Homo sapiens: one gene and its partners. The protein of the gene in region 4 interacts with the protein of the main gene of each other region in a pairwise test. Each region holds a gene or a part of one and is shown on either strand. Other genes may lie near its edges.

What was found.
Region 1: the proteins of SLC18A1 (region 4) and SLC38A7 interact in binary tests that used the Homo sapiens proteins (3 or more experiments, as listed by UniProt).
Region 2: the proteins of SLC18A1 (region 4) and SLC30A2 interact in binary tests that used the Homo sapiens proteins (3 or more experiments, as listed by UniProt).
Region 3: the proteins of SLC18A1 (region 4) and ANKRD46 interact in binary tests that used the Homo sapiens proteins (3 or more experiments, as listed by UniProt).

Annotation. Positions count from the first base shown.
Region 1 is NC_000016.10:58,667,771-58,671,270, forward strand, and holds part of SLC38A7 (sodium-coupled neutral amino acid transporter 7), read right to left. Parts: intron 3,475-3,500; coding exon 3,275-3,474; exon of another isoform or gene 3,100-3,274; intron 2,398-3,099; coding exon 2,343-2,397; intron 1-2,342. UniProt on the Homo sapiens protein: Symporter that selectively cotransports sodium ions and amino acids, such as L-glutamine and L-asparagine from the lysosome into the cytoplasm and may participates in mTORC1 activation. The transport activity requires an acidic lysosomal lumen.
Region 2 is NC_000001.11:26,043,319-26,047,349, forward strand, and holds the start of SLC30A2 (proton-coupled zinc antiporter SLC30A2), read right to left. Parts: upstream 2,801-4,031; 5' UTR 2,579-2,800; coding exon 2,529-2,578; intron 1,900-2,528; coding exon 1,679-1,899; intron 1,127-1,678; coding exon 980-1,126; intron 234-979; coding exon 80-233; intron 1-79.
Region 3 is NC_000008.11:100,553,260-100,556,759, forward strand, and holds part of ANKRD46 (ankyrin repeat domain-containing protein 46), read right to left. Parts: intron 1-3,500.
Region 4 is NC_000008.11:20,173,137-20,177,970, forward strand, and holds part of SLC18A1 (chromaffin granule amine transporter), read right to left. Parts: intron 1,309-4,834; coding exon 1,225-1,308; intron 1-1,224.

The DNA of each region.
Region 1 (3,500 bases), on a different chromosome or scaffold from region 4:
CACATGGAATGTGGTCTATTTCATTAAAAAAAGGAAACAAAAAGCAGACATCTGCAAATGTATGTACCAATTAACAGCAACAGGGATAAAACGGAATTGAAATAAAGGGTGATTTCCGGCCGGGTGTGGTGGCTCACACCTGTAATCCCAGCACTTTGGGAGGCCAAGGCGGGCAACCTGAGGTCAGGAGTTCGAGACCAGCCTGGGCAAGATGGCAAAACCCCATCTCTACTAAAAACAGAAAAATTAGGCTGGGTGCAGTGGCTCATGTCTGTAATTCCAGCACTTTGGGAGGCCGAGGCAGATGGATCACCTGAGGTCAGGAGTTCAAGACCAGCCTGGGCAAGATGGCGAAACCCCATCTCTACTAAAAATAGAAAAATTAGGCTGGGTGTGGTGGCTCATGTCTATAATCCCAGCACTTTGGGAGGCCAAGGCAGGTGGATCACCTGAGGTCAGGAGTTTGAGACCAGCCTGGCCAGCGTGGTGAAACCCCGTCTCTACTAAAAAAATACAAAAAATGGCTGGGTATGGTGGCTCACGCCTGTAATCCCAGAACTTTGGGAGGCCAAGGTGGGCGGATCACCTGAGGTCAGGAGTTCGAGATCAGCCTAGCCAACATGGTGAAACCCCGTCTCTACCAAAAATACAAAAATTAGCCAGGCATGGTGCTGCGCACCTGTAATCCCAGATACCCTGGAGGTTGCAGTGAGCCGAGATCATGCCACTGCACTCCAGCCTGGGTGACAGAGCGAGATTCCATCTCAAAACAACAACAACAAACCCAAAAAATTAGCTGGGTGTGGTGGTGGGCGCCTGTAATCCAAGCTACTCAGGAGGCTGAGGCAGGAGAATCGCTTGAACCCGGGAGGTGGAGGTTGTTGTAGTGAGCAGAGATCGCGCCATTGCACTCCAGCCTGGGCAACGAGTGAAACTCCATCTCAAAAAAAAAAAAAAAAAAAAAGACAAAAAAAAAAGAAATAAAGGGTGATTTTTTTTCTTCTTCTTCTTTTTCTTTTTTTGAGACAGAGTTTTGCTATCACCCAGGCTGGAGTGCAGTGGTGCGATCTCCACTTACTGCAACCTCCGCCTCCGGGGTTCAAGCAATTCTCCTACCTCAGCCTCCCGAGCTAGGACTACAGGCATGCGCCACCACAACCAGGTAATTTTTGTATTTTTAGTAAAGACGGGGTTTTGCCATGTTGGCCAGGCTGGTCTCGAACTCCTGACCTCAGGTGATCTGCCTGTCTTGGCCTCCCAAAGTGCTGGGATTACAGGCGTGAGTCACTGTGCCTGGCCAATTTTTTTTCTTTTTTAGACATGTTTGTATGGCTTTTTTTTTTTTTTTTTTTTTTTTTTTTTGAGACAGAGTTTCCCTCTTGTTGCCCAGGCTGGAGTGTAATGGTGTGATCTCGGCTCACTGCAACCTCCGCCTCCTGGGTTCAAGCAATTCTCCTGCCTCAGTCTCCCAAGTAGCTGGGATTACAGGCAGGTGCCACCATGCCCAGCTAATTTTGTATTTTTAGTAGAGATGGGGTTTCACCATGTTGGTCAGGCTGGTCTCGAACTCCTGACCTCGGGTGATCTGCCCATGTTGGCCTCCCAAAGTGCTGGGATTACAGGCATGAGCCAATGCACCTGGCTGAAACCACTTTTCATAAAACAAAACAAGAGCCCTGCATCTATGTATACATCTCCATAGCTATGTGTACACAGACACGCACACATGTACAGAAGTGGTTGAGGACACAGACCATACTGGTAACATGGAGCTATCTCAGAAAGGATGTGGGGGCGAGTGGGTTGTGGGGGAAGAGGGACTTCCATCTTTTTGTATTAAGCCCTTTATTAATGTTTAAATTGTTAACAACTAGCACACTACCGAATTTTTAAAAGTATTAAAAAAAAAACAACAACAACCTGGCTGGGTGTGGTGGCTCACGCCTGTAATGCCAGCACTTTGGGAGGCCGAGGAAGGAGGATCACCTAAGGTCAGGAGTTCGAGACCGGCCTGGCCAACATGGTGAAACCTCGTCTCTACTAAAAATACAAAAATTAGCTGGGTGTGGTGGCAGGCATCTGTAGTCCTAGCTACTCGGGAGGCTGAGGCACGAGAATGGTGTGAACCCAGGAGGCGGAGCTTGCAGTGAGCTGAGATCGTGCCACTGCACTCCAGGCTGGGCGACACAGCGAGACTCCGGCTCAAAAAAAAAAAAACAAAACAAAAACCCATGATTTCTAAGTACACAAGCCTCTGACTCCTATCTGTTTTAAGGCCCCCACAAAGCCACATTCCAATCCAGCACCTCCCTGAGAGGATCAAGGGCTGGGTCCTGCTTTACCTGGCTGGTTTGACCTCTTCCATCTCAGAGAGTTTGGCTTGAATGAGGCACAGCCCTGAAAGAGAAGAAGTGGCCCTGAGCATTTGTGAGGGGAGAGGGCTCCCTCCCTCCTAGCCACCTCCTTTCCCAAGAAGCAGTGCTGGATGGAGAAAGGCCCATGTTTACTCTTCTAGAAATTCCATCTCTGCCCCCACACCACATCCTGCTGGGGTCATCTGGCATCTGCTCTCCCATGACAGGCTGGCATCTGACAAGACCCCTTGGGCAGCATGCTAGACTCAGCTAAAGGGACAGCACTCAATGGTGACTCAGTGGTGGCCCAACCCCAGGGGTCTTCCTAGTACACTTCCCAGCAGATCTGGCTCCCCTGCTCCAAGCAAAGCAGCTGGGGCTTTCAGGGTGGCTTCCTGGATAGAGACAAGCTGGAAAAGGGTGGAACTCATGGCTGGGCAGACAGGACAGTTCTCCAGGGATCTGGCGGTAGATCTGTGTCTGGAACCCAGGTTCCCTGATGTCTGTGTCAGGGTGCCACCCCAGACCCCACTGCCCTCTGGGCTGTAATGGGCTGAACCAGCCAGATAGATCCCTCATAGTCAAGGAGCAGCAGACACCTGAATGAATGGTTAAAAGAATAGACTCTGGACCCAGACAGCGTGGGATGGAAAAGGTTACTAGTTGAGTTTGTTAAGCTCTAGGCAAGTCTGTGACCCTTTCTGAGCCCCACGTGCCATCAGTAAACTGGAGATCACAACTATACCTTCTTTCCAGGAGATAATGCTTGGATAGGGGCTAGTACAGAGGCGAGACAGGTGATCAATTAGTGCTGGTGGTTACTCTCTCCTGCATGTTTTGAGCAAGTAGGGAGCTGAGGCTAGGCAGGCCCTGGGAGTCTGTGCTGTGGGGCTGTGAGATGGGGCGCCAGGGGTCCGCACCTGGGAAGACGAAGATGAAGCAGGCGGCCAGGCCTCCAATGACTGAGATCACCTTGCCGATGTCAGGGATGAAGAGCGCCAGCAGCAGGGTGAGCAGGAACCAGACCAGCGTCTGCAGCACTCGCCGCCGCCGCTCCCGCCCCACGTCCTCCTCCACTGGCACCCCCTGGTAGCGCAGCCACAGGCCTTCCACCACCGCCCTGCCCACATGGAGAAGGGCTTAGAG
Region 2 (4,031 bases), on a different chromosome or scaffold from region 4:
TTTCCGCAAAGCAGACATAGGTGTGGGTGTGAGAGGCGGGAGGAGGAGGGGAGACGAGGGAAACTGGGGCCCCACTCACATGATGTTCACAGCCACAGCGCAGCCCGACGTGATCAGCATGGTCCCCCCGTCAATTTCATAGTCCCCAGAGATCAGCCGCTCCACAGCCAGGTACACCAGTACCCCCGTCACGACCCAGATGGACAGTACAGAGACCAGGGCTCCCAAGATCTCTGAGGAAGAACCCAACCCCAACACCCACCTTGGCATGGGCCTGGAGCTAAGGAGTCTTCCCCCTTCCTTCAGGATCCTCCCCACCCACCTCCCACACAAAGTCAGGGCCTGGGTCCCACTGGGCTCTGCTGAAGGTATGGCCGGTATGGCTGCCCCTTACCCCACCCCTCATATATCTAGGAATGTAAGAGCTAGAAGGAACTAATAAGTCATCATCTGAGTCCACCTTTTTGGTTGTACATGTAAAGAAGCTGACTTATTAAAGTATGTGCCTTTTGTTCAGCTAGTAAACTGAGGCTTCTGGGGAAGACAGGCTGGGCCATCTCCCACAAAGAGGAAGGTGACGATGCAGTCCAGGGTGAACGGAAGAGAGGTTAAAGCCTATATCTTCCAGCAGCCTTTGCTGGCCTTCCCCTCCCCCCAGAGCTGATCCACAGAGTTATGTGCAGTGTTAATGCCATTGTCATTTGTTCTTGAAGCTTGGCTACTGCACTTCTTAGGAAGGTCAACTTTGCTTCCCTGCAGACTGAGAGCTCCTGGATGACTGGGACCAGGGCTCCCCCATCAGACTAGGATTTCCCAGAGGACAGAGGCCATGGTTGACATCCTCTTCCCCCATCCAGATCACCCTCCTGGCCTCACTCAGGGGAGGAAGGGGGGATCCACCCATTACAGCCACCTAAGAACCCCTGTTCTAACCCACCCTCTCTCTCAACCCCATCTCCAGCCAAACCGCGATCCTCACCAGCTCTCTGCCAGCCAAAGTTCATGGTCTTGGTGGCTGGCCGGGAGGACATCCAGAGGGAGAAGAGGCTGATGAGCATGCTGGCAAAGTCAGTGAGCAGGTGTGCTGCGTCAGTCATGACAGCCAAGCTGTGTGCCAGGTACCCACCTGCAGGGTGGAGGGTCCTTATCAGCTCCCCCAGAGAGCTGGCTCCCAAGACTGTGTGTGCAGCAGGGAGACCACAGGCTCTGGAAGAGGACATTCTGGGCTCAAGATCTCTCTACCCATGAGCTGTACCACCGTGACAAGTGACCTACTCTCTCTGAGCCTCAACTTCCACTCTCTGTGAAATGGGCCACCAATATCTACTTAGAGGGTGAATGTGCACATCAAGTTCAAATAGGGACTGGAAAACATAGCAGATACTCAGTAAATGCTCTTCCCTTCTAGGAATTCAGGCCTTCCCTTAGCTACGAGTTGTGCGTGATCTTTGGCAAGTTACTTCACCTGAACATGCCTCAGTTTCATCATCTGTAAAGTAAGGAGAATAACGTCACCCATGTGAGAACACAGGTTGTTGTTAGACCTGCATCAGATAATGTGTATATAAAGGCTTACTGTAGTGTGTGTTCAGTAATTGGGGCTTTTAGTGTCAGTATTGCTGGGAACATCCAGTCTATCCATGCACCAACTTCATTTAATTAGCCCAAAAGTGCTTACCAACGACTTCTCCGATCATGAACAACAGGCAGATGGCAGAGGCTACATACAGCTGGCGCTGGGCCTTCCCCTTCTTGGGGTCACAGTGACTGTCAGGACCCTTCTGAGCATGGCAGTGATGGTTGCTCTGGGCAGCCAGCTCAATGGCCTGCAAGTCCAGGCCAGGTCGGGGCAGAGGAATCCAGCCAGCCCCTTCCTGCCACAGAGATCCCGTGTATGACCTGGCCAGAGGGGAAGAGAGGGAACGCTCAGCTCTGAGATGAGGTAAGGAGGGCCGACTCTAGTCCCATTTCTCTGTGAGGCCTTGTGTCCACTGGGAAAAATAGCTAAGGACGCTCCGAGCTCGACAAACCAGAGGTGAGAAGCCTGTATTCAGACGGGGATGATAGGGGAATGGGAGTCCTGGGGCCCGGGGCCCTTCAGAGGCCAGAGGAGGTGAAGACCCTGGGAACCGGCCAAGGGGCGTGCTGTCCAGTGGAGCGCGGGGAAGGAACAGAGCGCAGGCTCTGGGAGAACAGCAGGCCCCCTCCAGCGCACTTGGGACACAGGGCCTCCCCGGGGCGGGGCTGCCTGGGGCAAAGTGCTGGGCGGGGCGGGACTCCAGGCATGGGAACCGCCAATCCCCCGGCCCCAGGCCCCCCGCGGGCAGGGGTCAGAATCTGGGCTGCGCCCCAAGGGAGAGACGGTCCTTGGGCCACAGCCCATTATCTTCGTTCCCTCACCTCACCCCACCCCTCCTGCATGGTCCCAGCTCAAGCCGCAGCCAAAACCAACCACTGCTAGGATGGCAAATGCGGAGGTGCGTCGGCTGCCGCCAAAATTCCCGCCCGTCCCCAGGCTCTCGCCTTACCGGATTGCCGGCCTGGCGTCCAACAGATGCTGCTTCTCCTTGGCCTCCATGCAGTCCCGCGCCGAGTCCCGGCAGCCGCGCAGCCGCCCCGCCGAGTGCGCCCTGAAAGTTGCGCGCGGGACTCCGGGTGGCGCTCACCCACCTGCCCCGAGGGCCCCGCGAGGTGCGCTCACTCCGGCCCGGCTCCTGCGGCCCCTGAGCTCCCCCGGCTCCCGCTGCGGCTGCAGCTCCGGCTCTGGCTCCGCGTGCCAAGCGCTCCCGTGTCTCGGGTCAGCCGCTGCGCCCCGCGGCCGCCGGCTTTATCCGGCCCTCGCCAACCCGTGTGAAGCTGCCGTCGGCGCGTCGTGTGCAAAAGCCCGCGGGGAAGGGGGGGCGGTCGCCGGCTGCAAAAGGCCCGGCTGTGGCCCCGCACACCTGTGCCTGCGCCCATGGGGCCCGCGGAGCCCACCTGCCGGCCGCGAGAAGTTTGCCAGCCTTCGCCCGGCGCGGCGCCGGGTGTTGCTGAGTGAGGACGGGGTGACGCCTGCGCCCCCTCTCCCGCGCGGGGTGCGCCGCCTCGCCGCCGAAAAGTTCTCGACTTTAGTTTGTAGAAATCCGCTTTGGTGGTCCCGACGGCAGGAATGTGGCTCCTTGCCTCGGAAGAGGGTCTCCAGAGGCTACTGGGGCCGCGTCTGCCCCCTCCGACTGGCGGCTGCCCTGGGCTTGATCATGTTCCCCTCTCAGGCCGGAGACCCCCCGAGGTCGGCTTGCGTTCCTGTCCTCCTGCTAGGAGGGTCCTGGGGTGGGGTGGGCTGCGCCGCCCTCAGGCTGGGGCAGTGTCTCTCCCTAGGACCGGCTGGGACTGATCGACCCATCCTCGCCACTGAAGCAGCGCCAGCTCCTCCTCTCCTGCGCGCAGGAGAATCTGGAGTGGCCGGCTTTGTCTCCACCCGCACAGAGAACAGTGTCATCGGCAGTCACCATCGGAGCAGAGACGACCACTGCCACTGCTGCCACCCCTTCTCCCCTCCCCCGCAGCGGCTCCTGGGAGCCCCAGGAAGCCTGACAAGCAAGCCTGGGAGATGCAGGCCGGAGGTGCCACCGTGTTGGTACCGCTGGGAGAAGCCCTGTCCTTCCTGGCCAGCTTGGTGCCCCACCCACTTGAAGCAGCCTCCTTCCCTGGCGGTTCTTGGGGATTGGGGAGCCTGTGGCCCCCACGCTGGCCTCTGACAGGTGCCCTCTGTGTAGAAAGAAGCTGCTGGAGACCTCCCTGTCTGGTCAATTCGTCTCCCCAGCACCCTTTGTCGCTAGGACCATAGGCTTGGTGGGTATGGCCTTTCACAGAGCCAAGAGTCAGAGGTGCAGGCCTCTTGCCCACACCACTGGGGACAGGAAGGGGCTCTTTCAGTCTCTCATCTTGTAGGAGACGGGGTGCCAGGAGTGAGGATGTGAGGTGCACCCGCTCTGCTTGGGTCCTCACTGAGTGCCTCTCTGCTTCTCTGGACTCTGGTTTTCTTCTGGAAA
Region 3 (3,500 bases), about 80 Mb from region 4:
AGCATTAACAGCCAATGGGCAAAATACAGCCAAAAGACTGAGGAGAGGGCAGAGGGGCAGATTTAAATTAACGTAGCAGCAATGCTGGGCTACTGGAAAAAAGATGACTGATAGTAGGACTAAAACTGCCACCAAAGTTAAAATGCCTATATAAACTGTTTCAACAAAGTCACACTCAGAATATTTTTGTTTTTTTAATTAAACTTACGCAGGCTGGGTGTGGTGGCTCATGCCTGTAATCCTAGCACTTTGGGAGGCCACAGCAGATCACTTGAGGTCAGGAGTTTGAGACCAGCCTGGCCAATATAGTGAAACCCCGTCTCCACTAAAAATACAAAAATTAGCTGGGTGTGATGGCATGTACCTGTAGTCGCAGCTACTTGGGAGGCTGAGACAGGAGAATCGCTTCAACCCAGGAGGCGGAAGCTACAGTGAGCTGAGGTTGCACCACTGCACTCCAGCCTGGGAGACAGAGCAAAACTCCATCTCAAAAACAAACAAACAAAAACCAAAAAAACTCAGGCAAACCAAAAAAGGCATCATAATGTAATAAAAGAAAATATAGGTTATTTGGCTAGTTTTAATATGTTTACTTTAAAAAATAAAATACAGCAGAGTATCTAATGTCATCAAGACCCAATATGGAAAGGTAGCTAAATAAACCATTCGTGCTCTTGCATTTGTTTCTGATTTACTTGGTACCATACCTAAATAATAATGTGCACAAATCTTTTAATTGATTGTATTCAGAATTTATTAAAAGCACCACTTATTGGATAGTTTATTAAATGCATGCAAGTATCTGTATATGATTTCTTCAGCATATGTGTGTTTAAGGCAACATGAGAGAGAGCCAGAGACAGGAAAGCTGTCCATTTTAAAATCAAATTGGTGTATATCTCCTGCTTATTCAACATGTTTTGGTCTTGGAATTGTTTCTCTAATAATGTACTGGCAAGTCAGACGTTAAATTATTTAAGGTTTCTAAACACTGATTTGGTGGAAGTGCTAACAATCCTTGTGAACAAAGATAAGCTTCAGAAAAACTGAACAGCACTAAAAAAAAGTATCTACTTTGGAAAATAATGATCCTTTGTAATTGATTTTGGTTTTAGATATAAAGTTTACATTGGTAATTCTAATGTCTGTTTACCAGTTTAATTTTAAAAAGTACTTGGCTGGGTGCAGTGACTCACACCTATAGTCCCAGCACTTTAGGGAATCTGGAGCAAGAGGATCACTTGAGCCTAAGGATTCCAGACCAGCCTGGGCAACATAGTGTGAAACCCCATCTCTACAAAAAAAATTTAAAAATAAACCTTGCATGGTGGTGCGTGCGTGCCTGTTGTCCCAGATATTCAAGGCTGAGGCAGGAGGATCACTCGAGCCTGGGAGGTGGAGGGTGCATTCAGCCATGATTGTGCCACTGCACTCCAGCCTGAGCAACAGAGCAAAACCCTGTCTCAAAAAAACACAAGGAAAAAAAAAGTACTTAGCCAGGTGCAGTGGCTCATGCCTGTAATCTCAGCAGTTTGAGAGGCTGAGGTGGATCACTTGAGGTCAGGAGTTAGAGACCAGCCTGGCCAACATGATGAAACCCCATCTCCACTAAAAATACAAAAATTAGCTGTGTGTGGTGGTGTGTGCCTGTGGTCCCAGCTACTCAGGAGGCTGAGGCAGGAGAATCGTTTGATGCAGTGAGCCAAGATTGTGCCACTGCACTCCAGCCTGGGTGATAGAGTGAGACTCCATCTCCAAAAAAAAAAAAAAAGTACTTATCACAGAGACATAACCATAAACTTAAGTTCTAATAGTACTGAAAGTTATTTTAAATAGAAATCTTTTACAAACATCACAATAGTGTCTTTTATAGAATGCCTAGACAAAACCCAGTTCTCTAATTATTTTCCTTATAGGAAATCTAGAAAAAACCTTCAGTAGAATGGTACTAGTATGACAAATTCAATATTATAGTCTCAGAAGTTCTTTCATTTTTAAAGGATAAAAAAAAAACCAAAAGAAAGTCAACATGGAGTCAGTGAAAAAATTCTACACCAGAAGCAAAGAGGTGCACTAGATCTACATGAAGAAAAGCACACCACTGAGAATTACTTACAATAAGAAAATGAAAAAAATCCAGAAAAATACTGTGCTCTCAGGGACATACAAAAAATTAAGAACTCAGGGTGGGGGAAAAAACAGTATTAAAGAGGACTGGGACTAAAAAAAAAAAGACTATAAGTTAAATAAAAACACAATAGAAATTTAAAATCCAAATTATAAGCAGTAAGGAAATCAGTGATGGAAGGGCCTAACTTAAGAAGCTATGCAAAAGAAAAAAGTTAGAAAGGATGTGTGAGATGACAGCAATGAGAACAAGAAAGGAGAGCCAACCAATGAAAAATTCCTGGAGAAAAAAACAAGAGCAAAACAAAAGGCACCAACTTAATATTTTCCTCAGCTAAAAAAAAAAAAAAAAAAAAAAAAAAAAAAAAAAAAAAAAGATTTCCACATCTAAAGGACCTGTTATCTTTTAGATAAAATTATTGGATTTAAAAAATCAGTAGCTATAACCCTAAACTTTGAAATATTTTAATCATTTTACATCTACAATGCAACAGATGGCTGTATTTGCTATGGAAAAGGCACATTTATCCAGTCAGGATGGTGTAAATCTGGTATTTTACTGCGTACCTTGATTATTTTGTATTTGGGTTTGGACATTAACTTGCTGAGGGCAGAAACAAGAACCTGAACTCATGCCTTAAGATAAAAATTGCATTCTTTTTATACACCTACTACATTTGAAACTATGCAGTGGCTCAATCATGGCTCACTGAAGCCTCAATCTCCCAGGCCCATGAGATGCTTCCACCTCAGCCTTCCAAGTAGCTGGGACCACAGGTGTGTGCTAGCACGCCCAACTAATTTTAAAGTTTTTTGTAGAGATGAGCTCTCCCTATGTTGTCCAGGCTGGTCTTGAACTCCTGAGCTCAACAGATCCTCCAGTCTCGGCCTCCCAAAGTGTTGGGATTACAGGCATGAGCCACTTCGCCCAGCCCACCCAAGCATTTTTATGGGCTCTGAAATGTACTACGTAAAAAGGACACGCTTTATTGGTTTAGAAAGTTAAGTATACATTATTATTATGATCAGCAGTAGGATAGCTATTTTATTTCCACCAGTCATTGATTAAAACAATCCAAGTGTAGTAGGTATTAATCAGTAGCTTAAGCTGGAAATAAAAATTTACTATGGGAACGACTACAGTGCTTTCAAATAACCGACATATGAAAAATTTACAGCTAACCTCTTCCAAAGAGCTGTCCATACTGCAGTCTCCAATGCTCTTCCTCCTGTTGTCTCTTGAAACCACACCAATCAGGTTTTCTTCCTCACTATTCTCCTGAAAGTGCTCTTGCAAGGTCACCAAGGACCTTCCTATTACTAAATCCAATGGTCATCTCCTAGTCTTCATCTTACTTGACTTGTCAATCAGC
Region 4 (4,834 bases):
AGAGTTACAGATGCAGCTGGCCCCCTGGGGGGCTTCTATCCGCCTCTCAGAGCCCTTGGTCCCACCCTGTTATCTCTTCAGTGACAATCTTAGCTAGAGTTTCAGTTTGAGGGGTTTTACAAAACTTAACCCGTAGTATTTTTCAAGTACTACCCTCCCTAGTCCCCCAAGCCCCCACATTGTCCACTCCTGTTCAGAATATTGTTGATAGTGCAAGCCCTCTGGAAGGATAACACAGAAAATCCATTGTCTGATTATACCATGTTTCATAACATTTTATCATTTCCTAGCACATTTCCCAAAATGAGGGGTTACAGAGCAGATCAGGGAAAGGAAAATCTAGGCACACAGAGACCATTCTATTTAACAGGGGTGCCCAGGGAAGAGCAGGAAAGCACTGCAGACCTGGAAGAAAGTGTGGGCTAGTGCTGTACGGCAGCTGGACCCTCTGGCCTTCATAGCTATGGGTAAAATGGCATAAAATGCCAACTTCATAAGATTGCATTAGATATTATATTCACCAGTACTTTGAAAACTGTGCTGGTGTTACCAGTAGTACTAACATGATTATTCCTATAAAGTACTAAGAGGGGGACAGAAAAAGGACCATAGAGTGGCACTAAATGAAAGCCTGCCCTTCTTCATAGCTTCACTGGAGGCTTGCTCTGACCTGAGCTAGCTGCATCTGAATATTAGCAGAGGAAGTTATGTCAGGCTCAGAGATCTATGGACCCTGTTAGAAACTCTGTAATTCCTTTCTTTTTTTTTTTTTTTTTTTGAGTTAGGGTCTAGCTCTGTCACCCAGGCTGAAGTGCAGAGGCACAATCATGGCTCACTGCAGCCTTGACCACCCAAGCTCAAGCCATCCTCCCACTTTAGCCTCCCAAGTAGCTGGGACCACAGGTGCACACCACCATGCCTGGCTAACTTATTCTCTCTTTTTTTTAATAGAAATAGGGCTCTCACTATGTTGCCCAGGCTGCCCGGGTTGGTCTCAGACTCCTAGAATCAAGCTATCCTCCTGCCTTGGCTTCCCAAAGTGCAGGGGTTACAGGTGTGAGCCACTGTGCCCAGCCCAATTCCCTTATTTCTGAATCACAATTTCTACCTATCCAGGTGACATTTTCCTTAATTTCTCCATGTAAATATAGGATCTGAGGTAGTAAGAGATGTGTGTGTGTGCATGCCTGCATGTGTGTGTGCATGATGAGTTGCCAGTGTTACCTGCAACAGATGAAAATGAAGATCCAATGCCTTGAAGGGTTCGGGCCACAAAGAGTAGAGTATAGGTCCCAGAAAAAGCAAACACTGGGCAGAGAGAATAGCAAGATAACTGCAGTTAGCAAATTGCCTTTGCTTCCCCAGCCGCCAGAGAACATGCCCGTGATACTGCAGATATGAGTCTTGATGCATATGTTTTTAATAAAGCATGATGACTGTTCCCTGTTTTTTGAGTTGTCTTTTCAATCTCCCACTCCTCAGTTTTGCTATTTAAATGGCAAGAAAACTGAGAAACCACAGAAGTATAAACCGAGTCACCACACAGCAGATGGAAGGCTGAGTCTGTACATCTCTTGCCAAGAACCCAACATTCTGTCCACTGAAATGAGGGATGTCCATGAAGCTCAGTGTCCTAGGCTGGAAACTGGTTCTTAGATCATACTCCTGGATCGTCCATGTGCAAAATCCAGATCTGGTCTTTACCATTGCTGGGTCCCACAGGATCATCTGGAGTACAGTGACAGTAAGTAGGTGCTTCGAGGATTATAGGAATTGGGTAGAAAATAATATCTTGTGATACAATCAGATCCTTTTTTATATCTTATATTGAACGATCTTTTAACCAGACAAAATCAGCAGGTATTAAATTATACTGAATGCGCAGCTCTGCTAGACTCTGTAGCAAATGCAAAATAAAAATAACATCTAGTTATTGTCCGTGAAGAGAGGCAGTGTGTTGAAGATGGACACCCAGGAAACTGAGATCCAACAGGAATATGTCATCCAAAACAATAAGAGAAATATGGCTCTGTCCTGCCAGGCTCCCAGACAGTCAGACCTAATGGTTATCTCCCCTTGCTCCCTGAACATCTCCATTATCCTATTCTTTTTTCAAGGTTCTGAGATCTCATATTGTTCAAACACACACGCTTTATGAACAATTTGTGCAGTTAACGCAATCCTCACAGGGTCCTGAGTCGACATACATCCTCAGTTTACGAAGACCATGGGATTAAGAGATTAAAGTAAAGACAGGCATAGGAAATTATAAGAGTATTGATAATTGGGGAAGTGATAAATGTCCATGAAATCTTCACAATTTTATGTTCAGAGATTGCAGTAAAGACAAGTGTGAGAAATTATAAAAGTATTAATTTGGGGAACTAATAAATGTCCATGAAATCTTCATGATTTATGTTCTTCTGTCATGGCTTCAGCAGGTCCTTCCATTCAGGGTCCCTGACTTCCCGCAACACAAAACTAAATCAGAGGGTGCTGGTGGTCAGGGTAGTTAAGTCCAGACATGTCTCACCTCCAATTCCAGAAAAATGTCTCCTAGGGTAAGAATAATCTCCTCGAAGTGTCTGAATCAGAAGAATTGTAATCCCTTTGCCCATTCATTACAGATGTCTTTGGTTGTGTTTTTAATCTTCTCCCATTACTTCCCGGCAGACATGATCACACCGAACTTCTCCTTGTCTCCCAAAGATGCACATTCTTGGTCTCTTCTTTCCTGGCCACCAGCATCTTTTCTCAGACTTTGTTATTTCCAGTCTTTTCTGTCTACTCTCCCAATGTCCTTTGAGAATAGAGTGACCCACTCATCTTGGTCTGCCCAGAACTTCCTTGTTTTTAAAACTGAAACTCAAAATACCCCACAAAAACAGGAAGTCTTACATCCTGGGAAGCCCCTCACTACAGTGTGGACATGGGTTGTTTGTCCCCACCAAATCTCATGTTGAAATTTGATCCCCGGTGTTGGAGATGGGGCCCAGTGGAAGGTGTTTGGGTTATGGGGAAGGATCCCTCATGAATACTTTAATGTCTTCCTTTGGTGGTGAGTGAGTTCTCACTCTACAGTTCTCTCAAGAGCTGCTGGTTAAAAAAAGGCTGGCACCTCCCTCTCCTCTCTCTTTCTTCCTCTCTCATCTCTGCACAGCCAGCTCCCCTTCACCTTCCACCATGAGTGGAAGCTCCCTGAGGCCCGCACCAGAAGCAGATGCTGGTGTCATGCTTCTTGTAGAGCCTGCAGAACCATGAGCCAACAAACCTCTTTCTAATATAAATGACCCAGCCTCAGGTACTCCTTTATAGCAATGCTAAATGGACTAAGACACCCCTCAATTCTAGGCAAACCAGGAGAGTTGGTCATTCTATTTAGGAATACCAAAGCAATTATTTTTTTCACTTTGGACCCTTTACATGGGCCACCATTTCACTCTTGATTACATTAGGCATGGCTCCTAGTTGGGGGGTGGAGGGTTTAAGGGTAGTAACGGGCATCAACAATCTCTTTTAAGTATTTTTTAGAACATTGGACAAGGATACCCTAAACATCAAATGTATTTTCTTTTGGTTAGAATTAGGCCAACTCCATATAGCAACACAGCTATCCTATGGAAATAATAATTATTTAACATATATAGTTTGGTATAAGTTAAACAATAATTACTTAACATATACAGTTTACTTTAAAAGTAAAGCTTTTAACACATGAATTCTTGGCAGAGAATCAGGCAAGGATATCATGCTAAAACGTCTCAGATCCACTAGCACACCGCATTGTCTTACTTCTCAGTGTGTGTCTCATGTCTCCCCAGGCAACCATCATATACACTTCTGATAGCTGGAATCATGTCTTTTCATTCTTTATGTGACTATGGCCATCTGGGCATTATACATGCACTGCATAAAGTTGTTTGGAATAAATCTTAAGCCTCATTTGATGAAATAGGGCACCTGGCATCTTATTATTTTTAAATTTGCTGTCTAACTTAGGCTGAACTGCTAGAAGTTCCATGAACAGTGCTAATTTGAATTTCTTCATTTTCTTCAAGTCCACTAAAATTTCACAAACAAGACGTAGTTCTCAGAGACAACCTCACATCTCAAGTTCTTGCAGTTTGCAGCCTTCCAGCCCAGAATGCAACAAATTCTTGTTAAATATTGGGTTGCTAGGAATCAAGTTCTGTGCTGGGAAAGAAGAAAAGTTGAGGAAGAGGAAGACAGAAAGTAGACAAGGAACAGAAAGGTAATAAGAAAAATGAGAGGCATGTTCTCACTCATAGGTGGGAATTGAACAGAGAACACATGGACACCGGAAGGGGAACTTCACACACCGGGGCCTGTCATGGAGTCGGGGGAGAGGGGAGGGATAGCATTAGGAGATATACCTAATGTAAATGATGAGTTAATGGGTGCAGTACTCCAACATGGCACATGTATACATACGTAACAAACCTGCACGTTGTGCACGTGTACCCTAGAACTTAAAGTATAATTAAAAAGAAAAGAAAAGAAAAGAAAAACGCGAGGGAGAAGGAGGTGTGTTGTTGGAGAGCAGAGGTTCAGCAGGGCCATCGGGAACCAAGGCTGGATCCACAGGCTGCCTTCCCCTGCCTTAACCTGCTAACGCTAACCCTTTTCATTCCTTCTTCCTTTACTTCTCAGCATCAATTTCCAGACTTACTTTTCTCATGTACTGTGTTTATCCCATCTCCATTTTATTAGAAACATTTAGCTGATCCTGGATAGAGTATTTGTCTTTCTCTTTCTTGTTTCTTTAGCAAATTTACTTTTCTAAGCTTAACCTTTAAAGCCCTTAACTGAAAAG